Linked DNA regions of Homo sapiens: regions 2 and 3 are each reported to be linked to region 1. Evidence: microRNA targets listed by miRTarBase, many of them from high-throughput screens and not tested one by one. Region 1 holds a microRNA gene; each other region holds the end of a gene's coding sequence. Distances are from middle to middle.

The links. Region 1 holds the annotated microRNA hsa-miR-1250-3p (ACAUUUUCCAGCCCAUUCA, at 2,918-2,936, opposite strand). A microRNA usually pairs through its seed, bases 2 to 8, with sites in the 3' UTR of a target mRNA and lowers its output. Matches are read on the target gene's strand: a 7mer-m8 pairs with bases 2 to 8, a 7mer-A1 pairs with bases 2 to 7 and ends in A, and an 8mer does both.
Region 2: the mRNA of SIX6 is a reported target of hsa-miR-1250-3p. Seed matches in the 3' UTR shown: 7mer-A1 at 335-341.
Region 3: the mRNA of SLFN5 is a reported target of hsa-miR-1250-3p. Seed matches in the 3' UTR shown: 7mer-A1 at 1,922-1,928.

Annotation. Positions count from the first base shown.
Region 1 is chr17:81,130,311-81,134,609 of GRCh38, forward strand. MIR1250 (microRNA 1250) reads right to left here and starts at 2,998; the gene lies at 2,886-2,998. AATK (apoptosis associated tyrosine kinase) reads right to left here. Exons shown (of 14, transcript NM_001080395.3): 2 at 4,058-4,191; 3 at 751-895. It overlaps LOC124904079 (a long non-coding RNA gene), which reads left to right. Exons shown (of 4, transcript XR_007065937.1): 2 at 4,086-4,299.
Region 2 is chr14:60,510,972-60,515,091 of GRCh38, forward strand. It overlaps SIX6 (SIX homeobox 6), which reads left to right. Exons shown (of 2, transcript NM_007374.3): 2 at 113-1,879. The coding sequence ends at 281. It also overlaps a transcript of C14orf39 not described here. Among named protein-coding and RNA genes, the nearest start is that of SIX6, 3.9 kb to the left of the region's middle. RefSeq lists enhancers at 43-814, 3,888-4,120 and a silencer at 4,111-4,120.
Region 3 is chr17:35,265,280-35,269,399 of GRCh38, forward strand. SLFN5 (schlafen family member 5) reads left to right here. Exons shown (of 5, transcript NM_144975.4): 5 at 1-4,120. The coding sequence ends at 609. Among named protein-coding and RNA genes, the nearest start is that of SLFN5, 24 kb to the left of the region's middle.

The DNA of each region.
Region 1 (4,299 bases):
TCTGGAGGGACCCGCACCCACCACCTAGGCTCCAAGACAGAACTGGGAGGTCCTGAAGCCTGGCCATTCACCCCCAAACTCCCCAGCACGTCCGCCCCATGTGAGTGGTCGGCCTAGGACCCTAGGATGGGGGCAGATGAGGCTGTGGCTGAGGCCCTGCCTGCACCTGCACTCCTGGGTCAGCCCCACCCCTCGGCCCCTCCTCGCAGCCTGAGTGAAAGGCTAATTCACCACCCGCCCACACGGGCCCCACCAGCGCCCCTCCTCCTGCCATGCACAATGGAACCCGTGTCCCTGAAGGGCTGGCGCTCAAGGGGGCAGGAATCTGGGGTCAAGCATCCCTGGACTGCAGAAGAGCCCCTGCCCCCAGCACATGGCCATGTCCAGGACCAGAGAGCCCGCACCCCTGCCCCAGTGCCCACCCCTGCCCCGTGCCCACCCCTGTCCCTGTGCATAGCAGCCCCTTGGGCAGGGGAGGCTGGAGGCCGAGGGCTGTCCTGGACCCTGCCAACCCCTGGCCGGCCCCCAGGCCCAGGAGAAAGAGGTACATGCACCTTTGGCCCCACAGTGCGGCCTGTGACGCAGCCACAGGGAGTCCAGGGCTGCACACTGCGTCTACCCCACAGGCCACTCCCAGCCCTGTGCTGCCCCCACTCCAGAGCTGAGTCTTCCGGTCTCCCCAGATCACACCCAACGCCCAGCACCTGGGCCCCGGAGGGAGGCCACCCCATCTCCCCACCCAGCCCTCACCTGAGCGCCCAGGCTGCTTGGCCATGGGCAAGGAGACCTCCGTGAGTGGCAGGACGTACACGTCGGGCCCGTTCTGTGCTGCCGTGGCCGGGGAGCCCTGCGCCAGGTCGGCTGCGTACTCGTCCCCCTCCGCATTCTCAAACTCCTGCGGGCCGGGCCGGGCATGAGCGGGGCTTCTCGCAGGTCAAGGAAGGGTGTGGCTGGGCCTGGAAAGGCCCCTTTCTTCCAGGGCCGAGCTCCCAGGGCAGGGCAGGAGGGGGTGCTCGGCCCAGAGTTGGAGCCACCGCCCCTGCAGGCCAATGGCCCAGCACCCCTGCTAACTGCCCTTCCATCTGTCTCCTCTTGCTGACCCCCACGCCCCCGACCAGAGGCTCAGTTGTTCCATGAGGGGCCAGAGGCAGATCCCAGAGCCAAGAGGACCCATCTCAGACTCCAGAAAGGGCGCGATGAGCTGTAGGCACCAGCGCCTCAGCCTGGCCTCAGTTCCCCCATCCCTCCCTGGCGGGCAGCCCAGGCTGAGCCCCACCTTGGGGCCTGAGGGTCTAGAGGCAGGGAACCAAGGGACAGAGGTGAGGGCACTCAGGCCAGCTGGCCCTGCCCATCCAGAATCAGCCCCCAGCACCTCTCAGCCACCCACATCCCGAGCAGCCCCTCACCCCGGGCTGTGCCTGGGGTCCCACCCTCCCATGGCGCAGCTTCGGGGACAGGAATTCCATCACCCCCTGCCCCACAGTCCTGTGGGAGAAGCAATTAAGTGCCCCCACCCCTGCCGGGACAAGGAGCATTCCTGGATGTCTGGGAGCCCAGAGCCAACCGGCCACCTTTACCCTGGGCAGCCCACCTGCCACCGCCATCTGCCCCAGCAGCCTTGGACCTTCACCTGGTGGCCACACCACCTCCGGAGCTCCCAGAACTCCTTAAGAGCCTGGCCCCGTGCAGCCTAGGGCTGGGCCACTCCCTGCCAGGCTGCTATTTTGAAATGTAGAGGCTGCACCTGTATAGGGGATACCCCACCCCCAAGTCCAGGGCACATTCCTGCGCTGAGAGCCAAAGTCTCCAAAGTCCTGGGCCCAGCTGAAAGCAATTGCTCCAGGCACACAATGACAGCCCCAATCCCTGAGCACTTGGTACAGCCTTTCTGTCCTTCCTCACAACCCCCAGTGCCCTGGTGGGGAAGCTGAGGCTCAGAGGAGTCAAGGGACTTCCAGCTGGATGCTGGCCAGCACCCGGGCTGGTGAGTCCGAGGACAGGCAGGTGCAGTGGGAGGGGAGGCCTGGGCTCCTCAAGTACGACGTGTGACCCTGGGGACGCCTCCCTTCCCTGGGCTGCAAAGAGAGGGGCAGGTGGCTCTGTCGGTATTCCCGCAGGCCAGGCCCAGCCTGCCCTTTCGGAGCACACAGCCACTCAGGGATGGGGGACGCAGGTGCTGCGTGGGCAACTTCCCCTCCCCGGGACCCAGAAGACCACCCCAGAAGCCCCCTCTTGGGCCCTCCAATCCCAGCCCCGGCCTGGCCCCACCCATCTGGGCTTTGTAGAGGGGCCCAGGACACAGATGCTGTCTCTCCCTGGGGTCGGGCCCGGGCTCCAGGCATTACCTGCTGCCCGGGGGCCAGCCGGGTCCTGCCGATACAGCGTGCAATCAGGTAGCACAGGGTCAGCATTGGGGGCCTGCCCAGCCCCTTCCCTCAGCACAGCTCCCCACCAGGGAGCCCAGCGCAGGTCCCCAAATCCCAGGAGGGAGCCCAGTGTGGAGGCAGGACTTCCCAGGGGCACACTGGTGCTGGAATGTTCCGGGCACCATGTTCCCAAGGAGGTGAGGAGGGCGCAGGAGGAGGAGCTATGGCCAGCCCTTGTTTGGGGCCTTGTTCTTACAGTGCCCCAAGGAGGGGCCACTTATACAATAGCCCCACTCGTCCCACCCAGGCCCCACCTCCACTCCTGCTCCCGCCAAGACCTTGAGGCTCTGGCCTCGGGATCCCCAGGAAGGCGCCTGCGCGGCCTGGCCTGGCCCCTGGTGCCAGCGGGTCAGGGGTACATCCCAGAGCAGGGTGGGGGCTCTGGGCAGGAGTGCAGACCCCACAGCCTGGGGCCACAGCTTTGCCCCCCAGGCACGCAGCTCCTCACTGGTTGATGGGGCCTGTGGCCACTTCAGAGGGCTCTGGAAGGTTGAATGGGCTGGAAAATGTGGCCTTTAGAAAAGGCAAAAAGGCCACATCCAGCACCGTCACCTGCCAGGCCAGCGGGACAGGTGGGCAGAGCCAGCTCCTTGGCCCATTCTGCGTCATGACATACCAGGGGCAGGGAGGACTCTGGGACTGTCTCCCAAATGGGGGTGGCGCCAGCTGAGTCATGGGTCACTTAGTAGGAAGGCACCCTGAGATACAGACAGGGTGCTGTGCGCGCTGCAGAATGCCTCCTCCCACCCTCCTCCCTCCCTGACTTCTCCTGGCGTAGGAATCTGACCTCTGGCCCAGGGGTGGGGCTGACCCCCGTGGGCGTGTGAACCACCAGAGGTCCAGGCCAGGGTGTCATTTGCTCATCAGCAGGAATGGGACCCATGGAGACTCTGGGAGGGGGAGGCGATGCTGGCCGGGGTTCCTTCTGCCTGGCCCTCCCTGCTGCTCAGAGTTACAGCTGGAGGTGGGCTGGGGGTTTGCAGGGGGAGGAGCAGTGCTTGGCACCTGTCCTTGGCCAGGGGCCTTGGCCTCCAGAGGGGCAGCCTAGTGAGGCCAGGCCTCACCCTTGGCGGGGCTCCCTAACCAGCAGGCTGGGCTCTAGCATCACACATCGTCCCCTCCAGAAGGCAGAAGATACCCCGCGCAAGGTGACTCCAACTGGCAAGAAGGTCCCTGTGCCGGGAAGCTTGTCTGGGCAGCCCGGACTCCCCTTTGCAGATTGAATTCGGAGGGACGTGAGAGCCCCTTGCAGAGGCAGCTCCTCCACCAGGAGTCGGGCCTCTAGGGAGGCAAGCCCCCTCCCACACCAGCTCCAGAGCCCCCGACGCCCCCTGCAAGGCTGTCCTCAGCCTCCGTGAGTGCTCGGGCCCAACCCCAGGCTGGAGTGGGAGCGTCAGACCACGCCCCCCACAGAGGGCCTCAAAGTCGAGGAAGCTGGGGCAGGTCCCTGAGGAGGAGCTATGGAGTCCCTGGGCCAGGGTCCACGTGGTCCCCAGGTGGCCCCACAGCAACTACGGCCACCCAGCAGCCACCTTGATGGCCCCAGGAAGGAGGGAAGCTCAGGGTCAAGTGGACGCTACAGGCCTTGCCTGCGGGATCCCACGACAGCTCCCGCGGCCCCCAGGCCTCACCTTGAACCCGATACCGCCCTTCTTACAGCACAGGCAGGCCAGCATGAGGACGATGACGGCGAAGAGCCCGGAGAAAGACACAGCCACCACGGCGAGGGAGGATGGCCAGGACAGCTCGCTGAGCGGGGCGCCGTCTGCGGGAGAGCAGTGTGGTGAGAGTGGCCATGGCTGAGGGCCGGCCAGGCCCCTGCCCCTGCTCTGGGCTCCACAGCCCCACCTGGACTTGCTGCATTCCAGGCTGG
Region 2 (4,120 bases), not on the chromosome of region 1:
GTCTTCGGAAGAACCTCTAGCCGCCGGGCTGGAGGGACGCAGGAGGTGGTGGGGGCGGGCGACGGGCGGCTGTGTTACGAGCTGTGACCCGTGTTCCCTTTCTTCCCCGTAGACTCCAGCAGCAGGTCCTGTCACAGGGTTCCGGGCGGGCACTACGGGCGGAGGGCGACGGCACGCCAGAGGTGCTGGGCGTCGCCACCAGCCCGGCCGCCAGTCTATCCAGCAAGGCGGCCACTTCAGCCATCTCCATCACGTCCAGCGACAGCGAGTGCGACATCTGAGTTGCCCATCCAGGATGCTCAGAAGCAGATTCCAGTGTAAAAACGAGAAAAACAAAATGAAAGAGGGGAAGAAGATGAGAGACCTGCAAATCCAGCGCCACAGAAGCCAGGTGACCAGGGACCCGCGGGCTCGGGTTGCCGTTTCCCGCCCCACCCCGCGGCCGGCCTGGCTTCACTGGCGCCCTTTGGCCGCGACCACGGGAACCAGCGGTGAGGCCTGACCCAGCACCACGTTCTTCTTGCTTTGCTTTTTCCTAAGGATTTTGCTGCAAAGTCTCCTTCGGAACCCGAACTGCAAGCTGAGCGCCTGCCCAGATTCTCCCATGGGTATTTCACGTCGAAAGGACGCTGTTACATATGTATAACTTTCGCTTTAAAGTTTTTTTTTAACAAAACATATATATGCTGTTTATTTACTTATTTAAGAGACCGCCATGGTAGGTTTCTCTGTAGCTTGGGGAACTTGCTGTTTCTAAACATGCAGGCTGGTGGTGATGGGTTCTGTGTGGAGAAGCCAAACAATAAAACAACCTAGTGGGCAACCTTCTTAATTAAGGGAGCTGCTCTCAGATTCCTTTTCTTCTTATTATTATTAATATCATTCCCTTCACCAGGCATGCAGGGACCCTTGAGCAAATGGTCTCCGGAAGGTCTTACCTATATATCTTTTGCCTTCTTTGGTGCTTCCTGGTATATGTTTTAAACAACCTATGGTAGGTCTATAACCACCTCCCACGTCAAATTACACGTATGTGCATATATGTATGTACCTATACAAACATATGTATGTACCTATACAAACATATGTATGTATGCATACACGTGATATATTTAAGGCTAGAAATTGGCAACATGTGAGCGTCCTCTCTAAGGCAAGTCCCCGCATCCCCAGCACAGGTAATTATGGCTTGTCCACTTGACACTCGTTTACATGAAGTGTCAACAGCTTTCAGGAGCAATTTAGGAAGCCAAACTATGGGACTCAATAAGTGAGTCCTATTTTCTAAAAATGCAAAACTATCCTGACTCAGGCTCTGCAGCAAGAAAGGCTTTCTGTCTCCTTCAAGGCCCCCTCCAATACAAAAGCAGCAGGCACCCATGATCATGCTAGAGTGAGCATATACTGCATTTAGGATTGAGCTATTATTAAAATAAGACAAAAGATGATAGAAGAGGTTGTAAATAATTAGACTAACATCTTCTTGCTGCAGAATTTGGTTTTAATCAAATGAATGGTTTTTAACAAGAGGGATACTGAGATGGGGGAAAGGATGTAATCATGTCACATACTGAGGGTAAAACAAGGCTGTAGAAATAACTGGCATTTTAAAAACCTAATCTCCGAATTAAGCATAGAACAAGTCATCAAGGGCCTCATTGTCCTGGTAATGGCCTCGATTAAAACATAAAATATTTTTAGCATTTAATTTTTCCTCGTGCACATGCATGTATGCACCTATACATGAACAAATGCATGCATATACAACGCAAAAACATCTACCATCTTTGCACTAAGAAAATAAATGCTAGCCAGAGTCTCTAATTTTGTTCCTAGTGAAACAGATTGCATATTATAAAATTTGACATTGATCTTTAAATCACTTGAGCTGACTTCCCTCTTTACTGTCCCCATCCCCCAATTACAGCCTTTTCCATTTGCCTTTCTGTCCTTAGAAGATGTTCTTTGGATCAGAAGCCTGCTAACTTCTTTAGGCAGAAGTGCCAAAGTGCAAACCAAACAAAAATAAGTGAAGTCATGGAAGACAAAAAGCAGCCAAACGGCAAGATAGACAATGGAAGCCCAGGACAGAGTAAGGGTTGATTTTTGGTTTCTAAATCGCTTGAATAGATTTGGCTCATTTGGGCTTTATAAATGTTGTCCTTGTGTATGGTGGCCCTTATCCAGAGAATTCTTGAAAATCAAAACTCTCTTGCACAAGAGCTTTACATGGAAGGAGTGGGTAAGTTTTCGTGATAAAACTGGTGTTCTTTCCAAAAGCAAGCAAAAGCCCTCCTGTGGGTCCTGAAAGGCTCCCATTGTAGAGCTTCCTCAGTACTTAATTTTGTTTCCTAGAGCCCCAGGTAGTTCCTAGAATGCTAACGAGGGGCTGGCGAGGACTAGAGTGAGGCCAGGAGGGGACTCACGGTCAAGGTTATGCAAGTGCAGCAAGTGCAAGGCACATGAGATTGAGTGCCTCCTTAAATTTTGCACTCTAAGTGCCTCCTTTGCCTCATCCTAGTCCTTAATCTGACAAGGAGTAGCCACGGATATCCACTCTTGTTCCCCAGCCCCACCCCACCCTTAGCTATGGGGCTGTCCAGAACCAGTGTTTGGAGAAGTTTGTTGGCAAATTTTCTCTTAAGTTTATGCTTCCAAGTCCTAGAGGGATGGGAAATAACTAATTAGTGGAATAATGTAAAAGAATTTGAGATTCTAAAAATCCCACTCCACCCACCCCTTCAAATGATACCTAAAAGCAGAAGAAAATGTCCATTCCGCAGTGTCAAGAAAATAGGGTAACTAAGAAACTAAGCTTTCTCTTTACAAAATAATTTTTAAGTGACAGTTTATTGCTTGGACAAAAAGAGAAGACCAAACAGTGATGGAGCATTTTTAATTCCTGCTTTGACAAAAGCCTTTAAACTACAGCTACCATTTACTTAAATTAACAAGCTGCCTACATTTTAAAGTAGCTATTCTGTTTCAACAATCTGGATATTTATTTATTTAATTTCACTTTAGAATCTTAAGGGGGTGACACATTACTTGTAAGATTTTTTTAAATGTTTATCTGTAATGTGATGGCACCTAATTGCCTCTGTGAATAACCAATTCTTTGGTGACCACATATTGGAAATTAGTCCAGATCTTCACAGAGATTTATTTTATTTTAATCTTTCCAATCTTCCCAAGGACATTTAAAGGGTTTCTTTTTAAGACTTTTTCCATATCAGCTTCATTCTGGTCTTCAGGGTTTTGGGGGGAAAAAAAGTCCAGGTAATGGCAAGGCTGAAGGTTTCTGAATTTGGCAAAATCTCTATATAATGGGTTTCCTTCCTTTCTTTTCCTGCAATTCTTCTGTCACAATTTCCCAAAAAGCAGCTACTCCAGCAGAGTGGAAAGAGCATTTTTATATTAAATATTTCAACGGACCTGACCAATGTGAAGATTTTACCCCAAGCCCCAGGTCAGGCTCTTTTCCGGCTTATAAACATTTCAACCACACTCCAGTTTCACCAAAAAAAACGACGGCCCCTGCTCCCCAAATGCCGCAGTTCCTCTCGCCTCCACTTTAATGACCCACTCCACTTCCACCCGTCACTCCCTCCTTTCCCTTCGCCAGTTTGTTTATAAAAAATCTGGGAGGGAGGGGAGAAGACGATGGGGGTGGGGAGGGCTTGCTCTTTGTTTACATTAAACAAATGACAGGCAAAGAGCTCAAGCAAAGTCTTCCTTGACCTCGTTCCCTCTCCCTAATTTTAACAAAAAGGAAAAAAATATTGTATCCAAAGAGAATGTGAATGGGGCGGGAGGAGAGGAGAAGCAGCTTTTCGCTCTATTCAACGGGGACGCGAGAGCGCGGACGATTTCCGCTCCTTTTGTGAGGCGGAGCCCGGGGGCGGCCGTGAATGGGGGGTCTGTGGAGCGGCCGGCGGGGCTGTCAGGCGGCTCTGCGTAATCAGGGCTAATGACGGCGGCCGGGCGCTCGGCGGGACAATGCGCGGGGCCGCGGGGTTTTGTCGGCCTGAATGGCTAATAGGTTTGCCTGTGAGCTGCGAGGGGGCGGTGTCGGGGAGGAGGCGGCGGCGAGGGGAGAAGGGGTCATTGTCCGCGCGCT
Region 3 (4,120 bases), 46 Mb from region 1:
CACTTGAGTTGCAGTGGCCTCCCCCCTCCCTCAGACCAGTATCCAAGAGAAGAGATCAACAGAGTGGTCCGCAATGCAGGTCCAATAGCTAATTACCTACAACAAGTAATGCAGGAAGCCCGACAAAATCCTCCACCTAACCTCCCCCCTGGGTCCCTGGTGATGCTCTATGAACCTAAATGGGCTCAAGGTGTCCCAGGCAACTTAGAGATTATTGAAGACTTGAACTTGGAGGAGATACTGATCTATGTAGCGAATAAATGCCGTTTTCTCTTGCGGAATGGTTATTCTCCGAAGGATATTGCTGTGCTTTTCACCAAAGCAAGTGAAGTGGAAAAATATAAAGACAGGCTTCTAACAGCAATGAGGAAGAGAAAACTGTCTCAGCTCCATGAGGAGTCTGATCTGTTACTACAGATCGGTGATGCGTCGGATGTTCTAACCGATCACATTGTGTTGGACAGTGTCTGTCGATTTTCAGGCCTGGAAAGAAATATCGTGTTTGGAATCAATCCAGGAGTAGCCCCACCGGCTGGGGCCTACAATCTTCTGCTCTGTTTGGCTTCTAGGGCAAAAAGACATCTGTATATTCTGAAGGCTTCTGTGTGACAGGAAACCCAAGCCTAAGAAACAATTAAGTGGTTCTCATCTCTAATTAACTGTGAAACCATTTAATCCAAACATGTAAGCACACACTCACTTATTAAGTCACATACTTTTCTAGGTGCTGGGGATTGAGAACGAATCGATGTAAGATTCCTCCTTTAGGGCAGAGACAGACCACTGACAAATACACAGATAGACAAGGAATTTCCCATGGTAAAAAGGGATATCAGTAATTAGAGGACCGTGAGACTCAGAGATGTGTGTGTGTGTGTGTGTGTGTGTGTGTGTGTGTGCGCGCGCGCACGTGCACATGTGTGTAGGTAGATGGAGGGGGTGATTATTTTGGGTGGTCAGGGAAGTGCTCAGTGAGGGAAGAACTTGTCATGAGAATCTCTGAGCGTGCCAGGCAGACTCGGATATTTTTATAAATTTTTAACATGGCCACTTGCAGAAGAGCTTGAATGGGACGTGCAGCGAGAATGTGAAGGATGGAGCAGGTAGCTCATCTGGCCTTGTAGGTGCCGGGAACGGGCAAGACATGTTTTGAAATGTAAGATCACAGACTGTTTTTTGCAAGACCACATTATATTACTTTATTATTTTCTGCTTTTTCTTTTAACGACATTAGTGTTTTTGATCACTATATTTTAAAATGCTTTTTGTGAGCCTTTTGGTTATGTGGAATCTGTTCCTTAGCTCTGATTTTTTATTCTTATGGAGCGTCTTAGGTTACTACATGAAGGTAAGACTGCCACAGTCCCCCAGGGAGGCACACTGTGTTTTACTGATTGATTTGAAGATGATAGAGAGCCTAGGGGGATGAGTCTATTGGACTCAAAGGTTACATTTTGTTTTTCCATTTAATTTAATAATCAACAAAACGACAAAGTCAGTTTAATATCTTTCTTCTGCTGAGTCTTCAGGATGTTAGCTAGTCTTTCAAAAGCCATTGCTACAAAAGTGCAAATTTCTCATTTCCTGTGGGTCTCTAGAAACTCTCTCAATATTTAAAGCCAAACAAATCCATCTTTTCTGAGAGACAGAAACTAAAAAATTCAGAGTTAATTCACTATTAAAAACAGCAAGGCCCTGCTATTTCCCAAGAATAAAGAAATTTAAAATTCTCATTGTAAGAAGTATGAACTTGAAGCTAGAATTGGTTTATTTCTGGCAGCTACTTACAATATTAAGAACTTTACTTTTTAAATTTGAGACAATTTCACAGGAAAGCAAGAAATTAGTCTATTGTGAAATGTTTTTACAACTAACTTGGAATATACTGCAAATCACTAGTAAGTAGAGACACATTTAAGATAAAATGATTAATAAAACAATTGGTAATTCTGAATAAGGATCTGAATAAATCCAGATCACAGACTGTTCCTTTACCAATATGTAAAAGAATGTGCAAAATTAGTAAAAATATACCCAAAAATTTACCAGCAACAGAGAAGCAAAGAATGGAGTTCAACCTTACACTATAAACATCTAATAGATATGTATGAAAATTTAAAAACTAGAAAAGGTTGGGCATGGTGGCTCATGCTTGTGATCCCAGGACTTTAGGAGGCCAAGGTGGGAGGATTGTTTGAGCCCAGGAGTTCAAGACCAGCTTGAGCAATATAGTGAGACCCTGTCTCTACAAAAACAAACAAACAAACAAACAAATAAATAAATAAATAAAATTAGCTGGGAATGGTGATGCACACCTGGAGTCCTAGCTACTCAGAAGGCTGAGGCAGGACGATCACTTGACCTCAGAAGTCTGAGGTTACAGTGAGCTATGATCATACCAGTGCACTCCAGTCTGGGTGACAGAACAAGACCCTGTCTCCAAAAATTAAATAAATAAAACAAAAAAAAAGAATTTAAAAGTTTTATATAAAGGCATAGCTACTATCTCATCTGCCCAGTGTAGTCATGAATAGATGTCACATAAAGAAAAGAAAACCAGAATTCTTGTTAATATGGCCAGTTTGAAGGGTGGTGGCGGAGGTATTGAGCAGGCAGCTCAGGGAAATGCCAGGGAGACCCTTGAGCACAGAAACTCCTGATTGTCCCCAGGGACTCTCCGTGGACACAGGAGGGATTTTCCAGGATTTCACATGAATTCAATGAAGGGGGCTGTGTCTTATTCCTGGATGCTTTGCCTCCTTCATGGAATTCAGTGGATTTAATGGAAGTTCCTAGGCAACAATAAAGAGTAGAAACCAGGTTAACAGCGAGGGCCTCATCTCACACCAGATCATATCAGGCTACACAAAAGTAGATGGAAGACACCACCCAGGCCTCCAGCTATACACTGGAGAAGAAGCCAAACTAGTCTACTTCATCTAAGAAAGTTGTCAAAGAGAGCCCTTCTATACTATCTTAAGGTAAAAAGAAAGACTCTACCCAGCTGCCCTGATTAAGCATTAGAAAGATAAGTGTTCTGATCATTAGGCGAAAGACAATGGGGAAAAATGTAGAAAAGAAATATGACATGAGCCAGATGAAGAACCCATCCTGAAAGGATATATAACTCAGGGGACAAAAGACAACTCACCATAAGTTGGGCGCAGTGGATCACGCCTGTAATCTCAGCATTTTGGTAGGCCAAGGCAGGTGGATCACCTGAGGTCAGGAGTTCAAGTCCAGCCTGGCCAACGTGGTGAAATCCTGTCTCTACTAAAAATACAAAAATTAGCTGGGTGTGGTGGTGCATGCCTGTAATACCAGCTACTCAGAAGGCTGAGGCAAGAGAATTGCTTGAATCAAGGAGGCAGAGGTTACAGTGAGCCAAGATCAGGCCATTGTACTTCAGCCTGGGCGACAAAGTGAGACCCTGTCTCAAAAAACAAACAAAGCCTCCCCATAGATGTCTCCTGCCATAGAAGAATTTAAGAAGTTCATAAATTCAATAAAACAAGAGTTGAAGGCCTGTCCCACTGTACCCAATTTCTCCCTCTCTGAACTGCAGCCTAGAAACTCTCTACAGGCAGTAAGCTGGGGCAGTCACAGAGGTGACCTCATCTGTTTCCCACATCCTGCATTAGGACAGTGATCAGGGATCAGTATCCTTCATTGACTGATTTCCAATATCTCGAGACCTGTTGTTTCATATATTTTGCCTTATTTTGCAATTGTTTCATATATTTTGTCTTATTTTGCAATTGTTTCAGGAGGGAGGATAAATATGGTCCCTGTTCCTCTATCTTGACCAGAAGCATCTAAGAAGGCAGTGAAGCAACATGTGTACAGTTCTTAGGGAAACAAATTTTGACCTAAAAATATTAAACCTAGTCAAAATATTATTCTAGTACAAAGGCAGCACATGGGTATTTTTGAACATAAAAGAGTTCTAGAAATACAGGACCCATGAATCATTCTTGAAGAAAAGTTACTCAGTAAGGAAATCTAGCTAAGCAAGCAACATGTACAAATAAAAGATTATTATAATTGGACCAAAGTTAAGTTTAAATCCATTCACATGTATATAATTAAGATATATAGGAATTATAATTACAGAAAAGAA